Linked DNA regions of Homo sapiens. The protein of the gene in region 1 interacts with the protein of each later gene in a pairwise test. Each region holds a gene or a part of one and is shown on either strand. Other genes may lie near its edges.

Evidence for each region.
Region 2: the proteins of FAM161A (region 1) and TRIM69 interact in binary tests that used the Homo sapiens proteins (3 or more experiments, as listed by UniProt).

The regions. Positions count from the first base shown.
Region 1 is NC_000002.12:61,829,691-61,837,446, forward strand, and holds part of FAM161A (protein FAM161A), read right to left. Parts: intron 6,420-7,756; coding exon 6,320-6,419; intron 1-6,319. UniProt on the Homo sapiens protein: Involved in ciliogenesis.
Region 2 is NC_000015.10:44,760,150-44,767,527, forward strand, and holds part of TRIM69 (E3 ubiquitin-protein ligase TRIM69), read left to right. Parts: intron 1-7,081; coding exon 7,082-7,378.

The DNA.
Region 1 (7,756 bases):
GACATTAGTCAAAATTTGTGCCAGTAAGCCTTCATCTGACTTTGGTTTAAAATTCAATTTAACATCTTCTCAGTTAATTAATCCTGTGATTTCCAAGAAACAGGACAACATAGTTTATTCTGTAAAGAATCACAGGCATATTGTGTTAGGGAATCACTCAGCAGCAGCGAGACCACAATTAACTCCTATAAATGGGCAAAGCAAATAGCTGCAAGCAAATTTATTAAAAACCAGCTGTTAATTAGCAGCAATAGTTCCAGCAAAATAGACTGCAGCAAAAAATGTACTAAAAAAAAAAAGCAATGGCGATTCACTGCCATGGTAACTCTGTTTATACTTTTTGAGAAGTTAATGAGAAGACCCCTTGATATCATTCATTGAAAATGAGAATAAATGGAATTGGTGAGAATGGATGATTGTCCCTGTTATAAAGGCTTATTAATTGTCTACCCAGGGTTAACATTTTAGTAGGGGAATGAAAATGGTAAGGCGAAGGTATAATGAATGGTTCTGCAAAGAGCAAGGCAGAAAAATCAATCAAACTATTATGATTCAGATAGGAAATAAAGGTTCCACCTGGCATTTCACCACCAAGGATGGTGAAGGGCAGATCCAAAAATTATTTAGGAAGAAAATTTGACAGGTCTCTCAATGACCAGCTGAATGGGGAGGAACTGGGTACACACAGATATGAAGATGAGAACAGTAGGCCAGGCACGGTGGCTCACTCCTGTAATCCCAGTACTTTGGGAGGCCGAGGCAGGTGGATCACTTGAGGTCAGGAGTTCAGGACCAGCCCGGCCAACATGGTGAAATCCCGTCTCTACTAAAAATACAAAAAAAATTAGCCGGGCATGGTGGTGTGCACCTGTAATCCCAGCTACTCAGGAGACTGAGGCAGGAGAATCACTTGAACCCAGGAGGCAGAGGTTGCAGTGAGCCGAGATCACGCCACTGCACTCCAGCCTGGGTGACAGAGTAAGACCCTGTCTCAAAAAAAAAAAAAAAAAAAAATGAGAACAGTAGACACTGGTCTCAAACTCTTGGCCTCAAATGATCCTCCCCCCCTCAGTTTCCCAAAGTGTTGGGATTACAGGGTGAGTCACTGGCCTAATTTTTCTAATATAAAGATATTTCTGGCTGGATGTGGTGGTTCACATCTGTAATCCCGGAACTTTGAGAGGCTGAGGTGGGCAGATCACAAGGTCAGGAGTTCGAGACCAGCCTGACCAACATGATGAAACTTCGTCTTGACTAAAAATACAAAAAAAATTAGCCAGGCATGGTGGCACGCGCCTGTAATCACAGATACTCAGGAGGCTAAGGCAGGAGAATCACTTGAACCCGGGAGGCGGAGGTTCCAGTGAGCTGAGATCGAGCCACTGCACTCCAGCCTGGGTGACAGAGTGAGACGCCTTCTCAAAAAAAAAAAAAAAAAAAGATATTTCTTAGACAAACAGCACTATAATAAATCATTGCTGCATATGTGTTCAATATTGGTCTTCCCAAATAATACTTCATACTTTCTTTCTTGTATTATAGTATCACCCATAATGATTCCTTTAATTTAGCATTTATTTACTTTCCTTTTTTTTTTCTAGACCTGTTGGAACAAGCCTCGCATGTCACTAACACAAATATTAGTATTCCCAGGTTATGTACCTGCTCCCTGGAATTGAGGTTAACAGAAAAAAATAACATATCAATCTGACCATTCCCCCAACCTCCAAAACAATCATATTCACAATTTTGTCTCAACACACATCTGTAATTGCTGCAATTGTGTGTCTTGAATGACTACATTTGTCTGTCTTGTTTCTATCTGACTTTAAGGGTCTCAAGGGATTTTCTGATATTCAAAAAGCATTTGTTGAGAAGGGGGCAGGAAAACAATATGATAGATAAAAGAATCACATGAAGACAGTCAGATCTGGGTTTGAATCCTGGTTCCCCTTCTTCTGGTTGTATCATCTAAGCCTCAAGATGTCCCTCATCTGTGAAATAAGAACCTCACAGGAGCAGTGTAAAGGTCAGTTAAGACAATGCATATAAAGTGCTTAGTGGAGTGCTTGTCTTTCAGCAACCTCTCAAAAAACATTATAAACCAGCTTCCAAATAGCTTTGTGCAGTCTCCCTCTTAAATGCAAACAGACAACCAAAGATAATCTGAGGAAAGCTTCTAATATGATAGACAAGAGGCTAAAAAAGAGAAAAAGGAACTTGAAGGAAACAGAGACAATATCACCAGTATGCTCAGAGATATAAAAGACAGGCTGGGTGTGGTGGCTCACACTTGGAATCCCGACACTTTGGAAGGCCGAGAAAGGAGGATTTCTTGAGCCCAGGAGCTTAAGACCAGCATGGACAACACAGTAACACCCCTGTCTTTACAAAAAATACAAAAATTAGCCTGGCATGGTAGCTTGTGCCTGTAGTCCTAACTACTTGGGAGGCTGAGGTGGGAAGATTGCCTGAGCCCAAGGGGTTAAAGTTGCAGTGAGCCGAGATCATGCCACTGCACTCCAGCCTGGGACAGAGTAAGACCCTGTCACACACACACAAAAAAAAACCAACAACAACAACAACAAAAAACCAACAACAACAAAAAAAAACGTACTGCACCCATGAAAAATACCAAAGGAATATTTAATAAATGGGAAGCATTCTGGAAATTATGTCATTTTTCATTAGGTAAGCAAAAAATGCAGATTTGGAAGATAAATTTGAGGAAATCTTCCAGAACTAGAATAAAATAACAGTGATTTTAAAAGAAATACAAGAAATGTAGATAAATCCAGGTTAATATCTAACTACTCCCCAGTATAACAGTGAAAAAGTCCTAAGATGTCGTTTATGCCAGAGGCCTAGAGCAGGGGTCCCTACCACGAACTAGGTACGGGTCTGTGGCCTGTTAGGAACCAGGCTGCACAGCAGGAAGTGAGCAGTGGGAGGGCGAGCATTATGGCCTGAGCCCTGCCTCCTACAGCGTTAGATTTTCATAGGAGGGTGACCCCTATCGTGAAGTGCTCATGCCAGGGATCTAGGTTGCATGCTCCTTATGAGAATCTAACGCCTGATGATGTGAGGTGGAACAGTTTCATCCTGAAATGATCCATTTCCCGATCCATCCACCCCACCCCACGCAACCCTGGTCTGTGGAAAAATGGTCTTCCATAAAACCAGTCTCTAGCGCCAAAAAGGTTGAGGACTGCTGGCCTAGAGAGAAACCATTCCAAAGTGGAGCAGGACACTTGTGGGCTCCAGGGGAGGAAAGGAACTGATGAATTACGAATGTGTTTAACTGTTTGAGGGGGATTTTTGAGAGCTAACAGAAAAGCCTAAGAATAATAATGATACATACATTGGTGGGGAATGAGGGAAGGTGGGGGGAGGACCAAACAAAATTAGTAATTATTAACACAAGAAAAAATTTTTTTAAAGGAAATGTGATGGGCCAGGCATGGTGGTTCACGCCTGTAATCCCAGCACTTTGGGAGGCCAATGCAGACGGATCATCAGGTCAGGAGTTCGAGACCAGCCTGACCAACATGGTGAAACCTCGTCTCTACTAAAAAATACAAAAAAATTAGCTAGGCACGGTGGCGCGCACCTGTAATCCCAGCTACTCAGGAGGCTGAGGCAGGAGAATGGCTTGAACCCAGGAGGCAGAGGTTGCAGTGAGCTGAGATTGTGACACTGTACTCCAGCCTGGGTGACAGAGTGAGACTCTGTCTCAAAAAAAAAAAAAAAAAGGAAATGTGATGATAATAATATAGGGCTCAGCTGCTAACATTGTTTACTAAGTTATAACACTGAATTCCGATCTAACTGTGATAGAGCTGACTGGGAAACAGAAAGATGGAAAGACGTTGAAAGGGTAGGTAAGTGTGCTTCCGAGAGGACGTGTTAAAACAGCTAAATCCTCACCTACCATATCAATAAGCTAGTAGATAGAGTCTGTAATGAAAAAGATAAAAGAACAGTTGAAAGAATGTTACTGAATAATAAAATACCACTTTGTACCCACTAGGAAGACTATAACAAAAAGACAGACAAAAGCTAGGTGCAGTGGCTCATGCCTGTAATCCCATCAACTTGGGAGGTGGAGGTGGGAGGATCACTTGAGGCCAGGAGTTCACGACCAGCCTGGGCCATACAGCGAGACCCAGTCTCTACAAAAAATAAAATTAGCTGGGCATGATGGTGTGGGCCTTTGTCTCAGCTACTTGGGATGCTCATACTGGGGATCATCTGAGCCCAGGAGTTCAAGGTTCCAGTGAGCTATGATTGTACTACTGCACTGGCCTGGGCAACAGAGTGAAACCCTGTCTCTAAAAATATTTTTCTAAAAAAATCAGACAGACAATAACAAGTGCTGATGCTATTCACAACAGCAAAGACATGGTAACAACCCAGCCCATCAGCAGTGGATTGGATACAGAAAATATGTTACACATACACCATGGAATACTACACAGCCATAAAAAAGAATGAAATCATGTCCTTTGCAACAATATGGATACAGCTGGAAGCCATTATCCTAAGCAAACTAAAGCAGAAACGGAAAACCAAACATCATATGTTCTCACTTACAAGTGGGAACTAAACACTGGGTACACATGGAAATAAAGATGAGAACAACAGACACTGGAGAATATAAGAGGGAGAGTGGAGGGAGGAGGGCAAGGGTTGAAAACCTACCTATTGGGTACTATGCTCATTACCTGGGTGATGAGTTCAATCATACCCCAAACCCCAGCTCACACAATATACCCTTTTTTTTTTTTTTGAGATAGAATTTTGGTCTTGTTGCTCAGGCTGGAGTGCAATGACGCAATCTCAGCTCACTACAACCTCCGCCTCCCAAGTTCAAGCAATTCTCCTGCCTCAGCCTCCCAAGTAGTTGGGACTACAGGCACGCAAAACCATGCCCGGCTAATTTTTGTATTTTTAGTAGAGACAAGGTTTCACCATGTTGGCCAGGCTGGTCTCGAACCACTGACCTTAGGTGATCCACCTGCTTCGGCCTCCCAAAATGCTGGCTGGGATTACAGGTGTGAGCCACGGCGCCTGGCATACCCTTGTAACAAACCTGCGCATATACTCCTTGAATTTAAAATAAAAGTTGAAAAAATAAATAAATAAATAAATAAGAAAAACCCAGAAGCAGTGTAAAGAGCAAAAACAAAAAACTTGCAGTTCAGAGCTGGAGATAATGTCTTTGAGCCAAAAGCCAATCACTTTATGATTATAATGTAGAACAGCTTAAAATGATTTTTCCCCCTAAAGTTGAAATAAAGATGTTAAAAAAATCCATCACTTAAAATGAAAGGCATTATATAAAATTATATCTAGATCAGTGAGCAAAAAGATTACGTAACTTTGAGAGACTGTAATGTGCAGATTCACCCACAATACATGTCCACTGTCCTCAATGAGTCACTGGCAAGTACAGTTCTGTAACTATGCTCATCTGTTACAGGTAAATTCTCCAACTGTCTATTGTCCAATTATAACAGCTTCAAATTCACAATTTAGAACCTGTAACCTCCAGTGATTTTGTCAATTGTTAAGCCATGTCACCCATACAGATGCCTCCCCTATGGGACAAAGGAGAAGATGACCTAAAATTGACAAATTTCCCTTAAGGGAAAGGTTGTAAAACCGGGCATAAACTTAGTAAAATCAGGGTCCACTGTCCGTAAGACTAGTTTGTTTTTCGTATAGAAAGGAAGTTCTTTTAGTAATTGCAGAGAAGATTGAATTACAGACTCACTTAAAAAAAAAAACTAGCAGAAATAACTCTGATTCAATTAGCCATTTTGTTTCATTTTTTTAATTCTTCAAAGACCTCCAAGTGATATCATGAAGCCTCATCTTAATATCTAACCAAGTTTGTACTGAAAAAAGACCAGCCATTAGAAAACAGCTTGCAAAATTATTTTACGAACTACTGGATTGGCATGTTATTTATCAAACTTATGTGCTTCATCAAAAAGATTCAATGTTCAGATTATTTTTTTGAGATGAGGTCTTGCTACGTTGCACAGGTTGGACCAAAACTCTTGGGCTCAAGCAATCTGCCCACCTCAGCCTCCCAAGTAGCTGGGACTACAGGTGCACACCACCACACCTGGCTAAATGCTCGGATTTAAGCAAAATTACTCATTGGCTGATATGATGAAGCCAACACAAACAACAATAATGTATCTCAACAGTTATATAACACATAAGAAAAATGGACTGTAAATTTAGGAGCTAAAGCTGTAAAAAAAAAAAAAAAAACTGACGATAGCTCTTAAATTCCAATAAACACAACCTGAGCAACTCTTTCAAATAGCAGTGGCCTCTTTTTTAATTTTTCTTCTCTTTCTTCTAGTTCTCGTTGGTATTCTCTCATCCTTTCCTTTTCGCTCTTTCTAAAATTAAAGAAAAGCAATGGAATTTTAAAAGATCATCTAAGAAATAAGAACTTACATATGTAACATTTAACTTATCAACTTGTACAAAGTCAATGAAAAAAAAGAAATAACATTTAGCTTAGCTGACAAATCAGAAATTATAAGCACAGTTCACAGTTTACCTCGATTCCTCTTCTATACCGGTTAATTCTCATGGAATGCAGAATAAAATCCTAGGTTCTGAGATCACACATATTATGCTCTAGGAATAGTCTGGACACTTTAATTTCTGAAATCCTCAAGGCATAAATATTTTAAGGGACTTCAAACTGCCCTGAAAAGATGAATGAAAGTCCTCTTGTCTCATTTATAAGTGTATAAAACCAAGAAAATTTTGGAACAAATTAGCTATCTTCTCTGTAAGGAATTTCTCCTGAAAACAAGACTTTGCTCTTATTTTTTATTATTATTTTATTGTTGTTGTTATTTACTTTTGTTTTGAGATGGAGTCTCATTCTGTTGCTCAGGCTGGTGCGGTGGCACAATCTCAGCTCACTGCAACTTCTACCTCCTGGGTTCATGCAATTCTCGTGCCTCAGCTTCCCGAATAGCTGAGATTACAGGTGTGCACCACCATGCCTGGCTAATTTTCTGTATTTTTAGTAGAGATGAGGGTTTCACCATGTTGGCCAGGCTGGTCTTGAACTCCTGACCTCAGGTGATCTGCCTGTCTTGGCCTCTCAAAGTGCTGGGATTACAGGCATGAGCCATTGCGCCTGGCCTATTAATTTTGAGACAGGTTCTCACTTTGTTGTCCAGGCTGGAGTGCAGTGGTGCAATCATGGCTGACTGCAGCTTTGACTTCCTGGGCTCAAATGATCCTCCCACCTTAGCTCTCGAGTAGGTGGAACTACAGGGGCATGCCACCACACCTGGCTAATTTTTTTAAATTTTTTGTAGAGATGGGGGTCTCATTATGTTTACCAGGCTGGTCTCAAACTCCTGGGCTCAAGCAATCTTCCTGCCTTGTACTCCTGAGGTGTTGGGATTACAGATGTGAGCCATGGCATCCAGCCTTTGCTGTTATTTTTTTCCCCTAAATAAGATCTCCTACAGGTTAGTGGCAAAGTTAATTCAATGGGAGCAAGTCAAAGGAGAAGTAAAGAGCATGGGAATACAACATAAAGAGAAACAGGAACCAAAATATATAAATTTACCGTAAGTGTTCTCACTGTTTGAGCAAGATCCTATAATAAATTAAACTACACTATTTTCTCTATGTAAGATATAATTGCTACCAAGATAAATAAGATTAATGGATTGGGGAAAATAATTATACTTTTAAATGATAATTA
Region 2 (7,378 bases), on another chromosome or scaffold:
TATCTTGTTTTGCTAAATCAGCTATATGAATCCCAGGGGCTTCTCTGAAGAAGGAGGAGGTTTCTGAACATACTCTTTTTATGTACACTGGGTCTTTACAGTTTCTTTTGTGCTTGATGTTCATAGCGTAGAACATTTTAGAAGATTGTTTAGATCTTCAGTGCTTCAGAAGAAAACCAATAATTTAAATAAACATACCTAAGAAGGACACTAAGTTTTTGTGTTCCTGTAGATACCAAAGGACTGAGCAAGATAAAATAACACACATGGCATTTCAAGAACATCAAATAAAGTTCTAAATAAAAATCTTTATAGAAATAAAATTCTAAATAGAGTTTTTATAGAATTCATAGACTCATCATTATTATTATTGTTTATGGTTATTGATTTAATGAGAAATCACAAATATATCCCTGATTTAATGAAAAATCGCAAATTTTTCCAGGTAATTGACATTGAAGAAAAATCAACTATACTGAGATATAGTTAACATAGAGTAAAATTATCCAATTTTAAGGGCACAATTTGATGAGTTCTGATGTATATATACACTTAGGTAAACCTCTCCATAATCAAAATATAGAAGATTTTTATCACTCCAAAAAGTTCCTACATGCCCCTTTGAAATCAATCTCTTCCTTCTACTCTCAGCCTCTAACATTCACTGACATGTTTTATTTCACTTTAAATGTGTCTTTTCTAAATTTTTGTCTAAGTGATAGCATACATTATGTAGTGTTTTGTGTCTTCTGGTTTTTTTCACTTAGCATAATTTTTTTTTTTTTTGAGATGGAGTCTCGCTCTGTTGCCCAGGCTGGAGTGCAGTGGTGCCATCTCTGCTCACTGCAAGCTCTGCCTCCAGGGTTCATGCCATTCTCCTGCCTCAGCCTCCCGAGTAGCTGGGACTACAGGCGCCTGCCACCATGCCCGGCTAATTTTTTTATATTTTCAGTAGAGACGGGGTTTCACCCTGTTAGCCAGGATGGTCTCGATCTCCTGACCTCGTGATCTGCCCGCCTCAGCCTCCCAAAGTGCTGGGATTACAGGTATGAGCCACTGCGCCAGGCCGCATAATGCTTTTTGAGCACTTATGTTGTTCCATGTATCAATAATCATGATTATTTATTCAGTTTACTTATTCATTTCCCAGTTGATGGACATGGGGTAGTCCATGGTAGTTTTATCCATCCTGCAATTAGTGAAAATCCCAGTTTCTCTATATCCTTTCCAAAACTTGATATTGTCAATCTTTTTAATTTAAACCATTTTATTGAATGTATAGTAGTATCTTATTGTGGTTTTAATTTGTATATCTCTTGTTTTGGTGGGAGGGTGGGACAGAGTCTCACTCTGATGTCCAGGCTAGAGTACAGTGGTGCATCTCAACTCACTGCAACCTCTGCCTCCGAAGCTCAAGTGATTCTTGCGCCTCAGACTCCCCAGTAGCTGGAATTACAGGCGCGCACTGCCATGCCTAGCTAATTTTTGTATTTTTAGTAGAGATGAGGTTTTGCCATGTTGGCCAGGCTGATCTTGAACTCCTGGCCTTAAGTGATCCATCCACCTCAGCCTCCTAAAGTGTTGAAATTACAGGCATGAGCCGTGGTGCCCGGCTGCATATCCCTAATGAGCAATCCTGTTGAGCGTCCTTTCAGGTGCTTCCTTGCCATTCATATATTTTTTTGGTTGTGTTCAAACTTTTGTCTATATTTTTGTTAAATTGTTGTATTATTAAGTTGTAAAGGATACAAATCCTTTATCAGATATATGTTTCTTAAATATTTTTTCTCACTCCATGGCTTGCCTTTTCAATTTATTTTTATTTATTTATTTTTTTGAGATGGAGTCTCACTCTGTCACCCAGGCTGGAGTGTGGTGCAATCTCGGCTCACTGCAAGCTCCGCCTCCCAGGTTCACGCCATTCTCCTGCCTCAGCCTCCCAAATAGCTGGGACTACAGGTGCCCGCCACCACGCCCGGCTAATTTTTTTGCATTTTTAGTAGAGATGGGGTTTCACCATGTTAGCCAGGATGGTCTCGATCACCTGACCTCGTGATCTGCCCGCCTCGGCCTCCCAAAGTACTGGGATTACAGGCGTGAGCCACCGCACCTGGCCATCTCTGGCTAATTTTAGGACTTGCTTTTTGTCACTTGCTTCCATCAATTTGATTATACGTGGTCTTGGTGTGATTTTCTTTGTATTTATTCTGCTTGTGCGTCATTGAGCTGCTTGGATCTAAGGGTTTATAATTTTCATCAAATTTTGAATAATATCAGCTGGTATTTCTTCAAATACTTTTTTACCAACCCCTTTTCTCCTCTCCTTCTTGGAGTCTAATTTTACATATTTTAGACAACTTGATATTGTCAAGTTGTCTCATGTCATCGATATTCAGTACTTTTTTAGCCTTTTTTCACCTCACACTTTATTTTAAATGGTTTCTATTGTTATTCAAGTTCTCATCTTTTCTTCTGCATGGTCTAACCTTCTGTTAATATTGTTCAAGATATTTTCATTTTATATACATTTCATTTCTAGAAGTTTCATTTGGGTCTTTTTATATCTTTCTTATCTCTTCTCACCATGTTCATGCCTTCCTCTACATTCTTGAAAAAATGGAAGACATTTATCCATTTTAATATCCTTGTCTGCTAATTCTATCATCATTGTCATTTCTGGGCCTGATTTTATTGTTTGATTGTTCTCCTGAGAGTCATATTTTCCTGCTGCTTTGTATGGCTAGTAATCTTTTTCTTTTTAATGGGCTTTATTTTTTAGGACACTTTTAGATTTTTTAATTTTACAGAAAAACTGAGAAGATAGTATAGAGTTTTTTATATGCCCCATCCTCACTTTTCTCTATTATTAACATCTTAGATTTAACATTTTTAACAACTAATGAACCAAATTGATACATTATTAACTGAAATCCATAGTTCCTTTAGATTTTCTTAGTTTTTACCTAATGTCATTTTTCTGTTTTAGGTTTCCATCTAAGGTGCCACATTACACTAAGTTGTCATTTTCTTTAGGTGCCCCTTGGCTGTGACAGTTTCTCAGGCTTGCCTTATTTTTTATGACTTAGATAGTTTTGAGGAGTACTGGTCATATATTTTGTAAGGATGCTGCACTATTGCAATTTGTTTGATGTTTTCCTCATAAAATTTGGGTTATTAATTGGGAGAGGAAGACAGTAGCATTAAAGTGTCATTGTCATCACATCACATTAAGTGTTCATACCGTCAACATGATTTATGACTATTGATGTTGACTTTAATCACCTGGCTGAGGAAGTGTCTGTCAGGTTTCTCCACTGTACTCTTTTTCCCTCCTTCTATACTTGTATACTTTGGAAGGCAGTCATTGTGCACAGCCCACGCTTAAGGAGGGGATAGTTATGCTCCCTCTCCCTGAGGGTAGTGTATTAATGTAAATTATTTGAAATTTTGCTGCCCTGGAGATTTGTCTCTTCTGGTTGGTAATTTTTTACTGGATGCCAAATATGATGAATTTCATATTGTTTGTACTGATGAATTCATATTGGTGAATTTTGTATTTGCTGGATTTTGTTGTAGTTCTTTCAGTTCTATTGAATTTAACTCTGGCATGCAGTTAACATGGTATGACATCATTTTGTTCCTTCTGAGGCTTAAATAAAGCCTAGTTAGAGTGGCTCAAGAGCAGCCTTTAATCTAGGGCTAACTTAGCCCATTTTCTAAAGTAATATACCCTTCTGATTACCCTACCTGACGTTGACATATTACGACATTTTTCCATTCTGGTTGGCAAGATTGAAAATTATTCCCAGCCTTGTGTGAGCTCCAGAAATTGTTCAGTCTATTGATTTCTGGAGGTTCTTTCTCTGGCCTTGACGAGTTTCACTGCATGCATGTGCAGATTAGTACTCAGCCACAGCCTTGAGAGAATCCCTTTGTAGATGTTTGTAAGTTTCTGTGAAGTTCCCTCCTCTGTGTTACTCTGCTTAGCAAATTGTAGCTGCCTTGGTATGACAGAGTTTTTCTTCCTGTATACTTTGCTCTGTAAAGCCAAACTTCACTTCTAGCAATCTTTTAAAATGCAAACTGATTTTTAAATTTTTGGTATAATTTTACATCAAGAAAACCAAATGAGATTTATTTAATATATGACTATTTATTAATAATGTATTATTTATCCATATACTCTCCCTCTATACAGAGTGGGAAATTGTTTTTCTATGGTAACTGTGGTCAGACCTTTGTAAAATATATTCCATACTTTTTATTTCTAAGTCTTTGCTTATTTTGTAGATCCATATATTCTCCTTTTCTGCCAGCCTTATAAATTAGGCTGTTGCTTTAGAGCAGGAGCTGGCACTTTTCTGTAAAGGTTTGAAGAGTAAATATTTTAGGCCTTGCAGGTGTATGGTCTTTGTTGCTGCTACTTAACTCTGCTCTTGTAGTGAAAAAGAAGCTACAGACAACATATAAATGAATGGTCATAAATGTGCTCCAATAAAACTTTACTTACAAAGTAGGCAGTGGGTCAGATTTGACCTGTTGGTTGTAGTTTGCCTACTCTAGCTTAGGGAATTTTTCAATTTAAAATATTTGCATGAACAAATGCCCAAATAATGTGGAGTGAACCATATGGGGAAAAAGCATTCTAGGACAAGGGAAGAAATTATAAGGACCCTGAAGTAGGAATGATCTTCATTATGTTCAAGGAACTGCCAAAAGACAAGGGTGGATGAATCAAAGTAAATGAGGGAAAGTGTGGTAGGAGATGAAGTAGAGAGGTAGGTAAATCATGTGGCTCTTTTTTCCTCTATAAGGACTCTGGATTTTATCTCAGATGTGATGGTAAACATAAGAGTATGCTGAGCAGGGAAATGGCTTGATCTCATTCATGATATGTGTAGAATAGGGTGCAGATGGGCAAGAGAGGAAACAGAAGAGTAAAAAGCTATTGCAGTAGTTCCAGGCCAGTGATATTTCTGGAAGTAGTCAGAAGTGTTTGGGCACAAGATATATTTTGAAGGTGGAGCTGACAGAACTTTTCGTTATATGAACGTGGCATGAGAAGGAAAGAGAGGACAAAAAGCTGACTCATGGGAATCTTCAGAGCCAGTGCAGGCTGAACTAGCTAGAGATGTGTCAGAGGCTTAGCAAAGAGAGCAGAGTGGGATTCCAAAACGTTGCTAAAAAGTCTTTATGGTACCTCCAAAGAAAACCCAGTCCTCACATCAGAAAGATTAACAACCCAAAGTGAATGGGGATATGTAAGGGGATAGGGATTTAGCCTATATGGAAAAATTCAAGATTCTTAATTCTTCAAAGCCTCTTGTTGGAAAGAGAAGTCCCTGGGATAATGGAAAAGACTCAGGCTTTTCTGAGAAGATAGAGTTAGACTAGAGTTCATGACTAGCCTGGCCAACATGGTGAAATCCTGTCTCTACTAAAATTACAAAAAATATCAGCTGAGCGTGGTGGTGCATGCCTGTAATCCTAGCTACTCAGGAGGCTGAAGCAGGAGAATTGCTTGAACCCAGGAGGCGGAGGTTGCAGTGAGCCGAGGTTGTGCCACTGCACTCCAGCCTGGGGGACAGAGCAAGAATCTATCTCAAAAAAAACAAAACAAAACAAACAAACAAACAAAAAAAAAACAGAGAGAGAGAAACTAGATTGATTCTGCTTCCAAGGATAAATAAATCCAATAACAACAAATGCATGCATACATGTATCTGTGTCCATGGTGTGCACACACATAGCTATTAGGTCTCCTTTATCAAATTTCATGTCAAGGTCCAATGATCTCACATCTGGAATTTGTGTCATCCTCTTGCTGGTCAGCTTTCAACCTCTCTTCATTTAGTTTAGATATTCTTTTTTATACTGCTGCCCTTTGAATTGTCTAAACCAATGCTTGTAAAATTATCTGTGATGAAGGGCCAATCAAAAAAATCTCAATCTGTCATGGACTGATACTTTTGTAGAATACAATATAAATTACTTGAAAAAGTAAAATTAAAAAAAGCAAAGATTACAAAGTACAAGCCCAATTTTGTAATTATTAGATTCAACTGACATAAAATTACTGTCAATTTGCTATGAAAGTTTTTAAAAGTTTACTGTTAATTTCTATACTATCTTTGTCCGAGACTGTTAACCACATGGTATGTGGACCACATTATGAGTAGCAATGACATAAACCACTCTAGATCTCAAAAATCTCATTATCTGTTAAACCAAAATAAACCTCTCACTATTGTCCTCTAAACTCTGTACCAGTTAGTTCAGTCTTGCCTGTGTCTAACAGGCAAGCTCTTGTGTTCTCTTCCACACAGGGGACTGTTTTTAATCCATTTCTTTCTTTCCGTTTATTCAAAACATCCTAAATACATCTCATGTATATACAACTGAATACTTACCTTCCTCAGAAAGCTTTCCTAGAACATCCTTACCTAATTTTTACCCCTTTGGCATTTGTATTTTCTTATATTTATTAGTATAGGTTTATATTATTTGTATTGTTTCCTTTAGTAGAGCATAAATTACTTCTGAGTAAACCCTGATTTTTACCCTAAATATAAAAATGTCTAGAATATAGTAACATGGATACCCAAACAATAAAAAGCATGTAAGTGGCCAGGTGCGGTGGCTCATGCCTGTAATCTCAGCACTTTGAGAGGCCTAGGCAGGTGGGTTGCTTGGGGCCAGGAGTTCAAGGCCAGTCTGGCCAACATGGCGAAACCCTGTCTCTACTAAAAAATTACAAAGATTAGCCAGGTGTGGTGGCACACACCTGTAATCCCAGCTATTTGGGGGGCTGAGGCACGAGAATTGCTTGAACCCAGGAAGCGGAGGTTGCAGTGAGCCGAGATCGCACCACTGCACTCCAGCCCTGGGCAACCTTGTCTGCCTCAAAAAAAAAAAAAAAAAAAAAAAAAAAAAAAGCATATAAGTAATTGCTTGCCTGTCTAAGAGTCTATGTGTATGGGGAGATAAAGTACTATTGAATATGAAATACTATCTTTTACTGTGGGAATTTGTGTTTACCCCCCTTTCTCCCATGCTCTGCTTTCTTTTATTTTCTTACTAGGCCTGTCTCCACTAACTCTGGACCCTAAAACAGCTCACCCAAATCTGGTGCTCTCCAAAAGCCAAACCAGCGTCTGGCATGGTGACATTAAGAAGATAATGCCTGATGATCCTGAGAGGTTTGACTCAAGTGTGGCTGTACTGGGCTCAAGAGGCTTCACCTCTGGAAAGTGGTACTGGGAAGTAGAAGTAGCAAAGAAGACAAAATGGACAGTTGGAGTTGTCAGAGAATCCATCATTCGGAAGGGCAGCTGTCCTCTAACTCCTGAGCAAGGATTCTGGCTTTTAAGACTAAGGA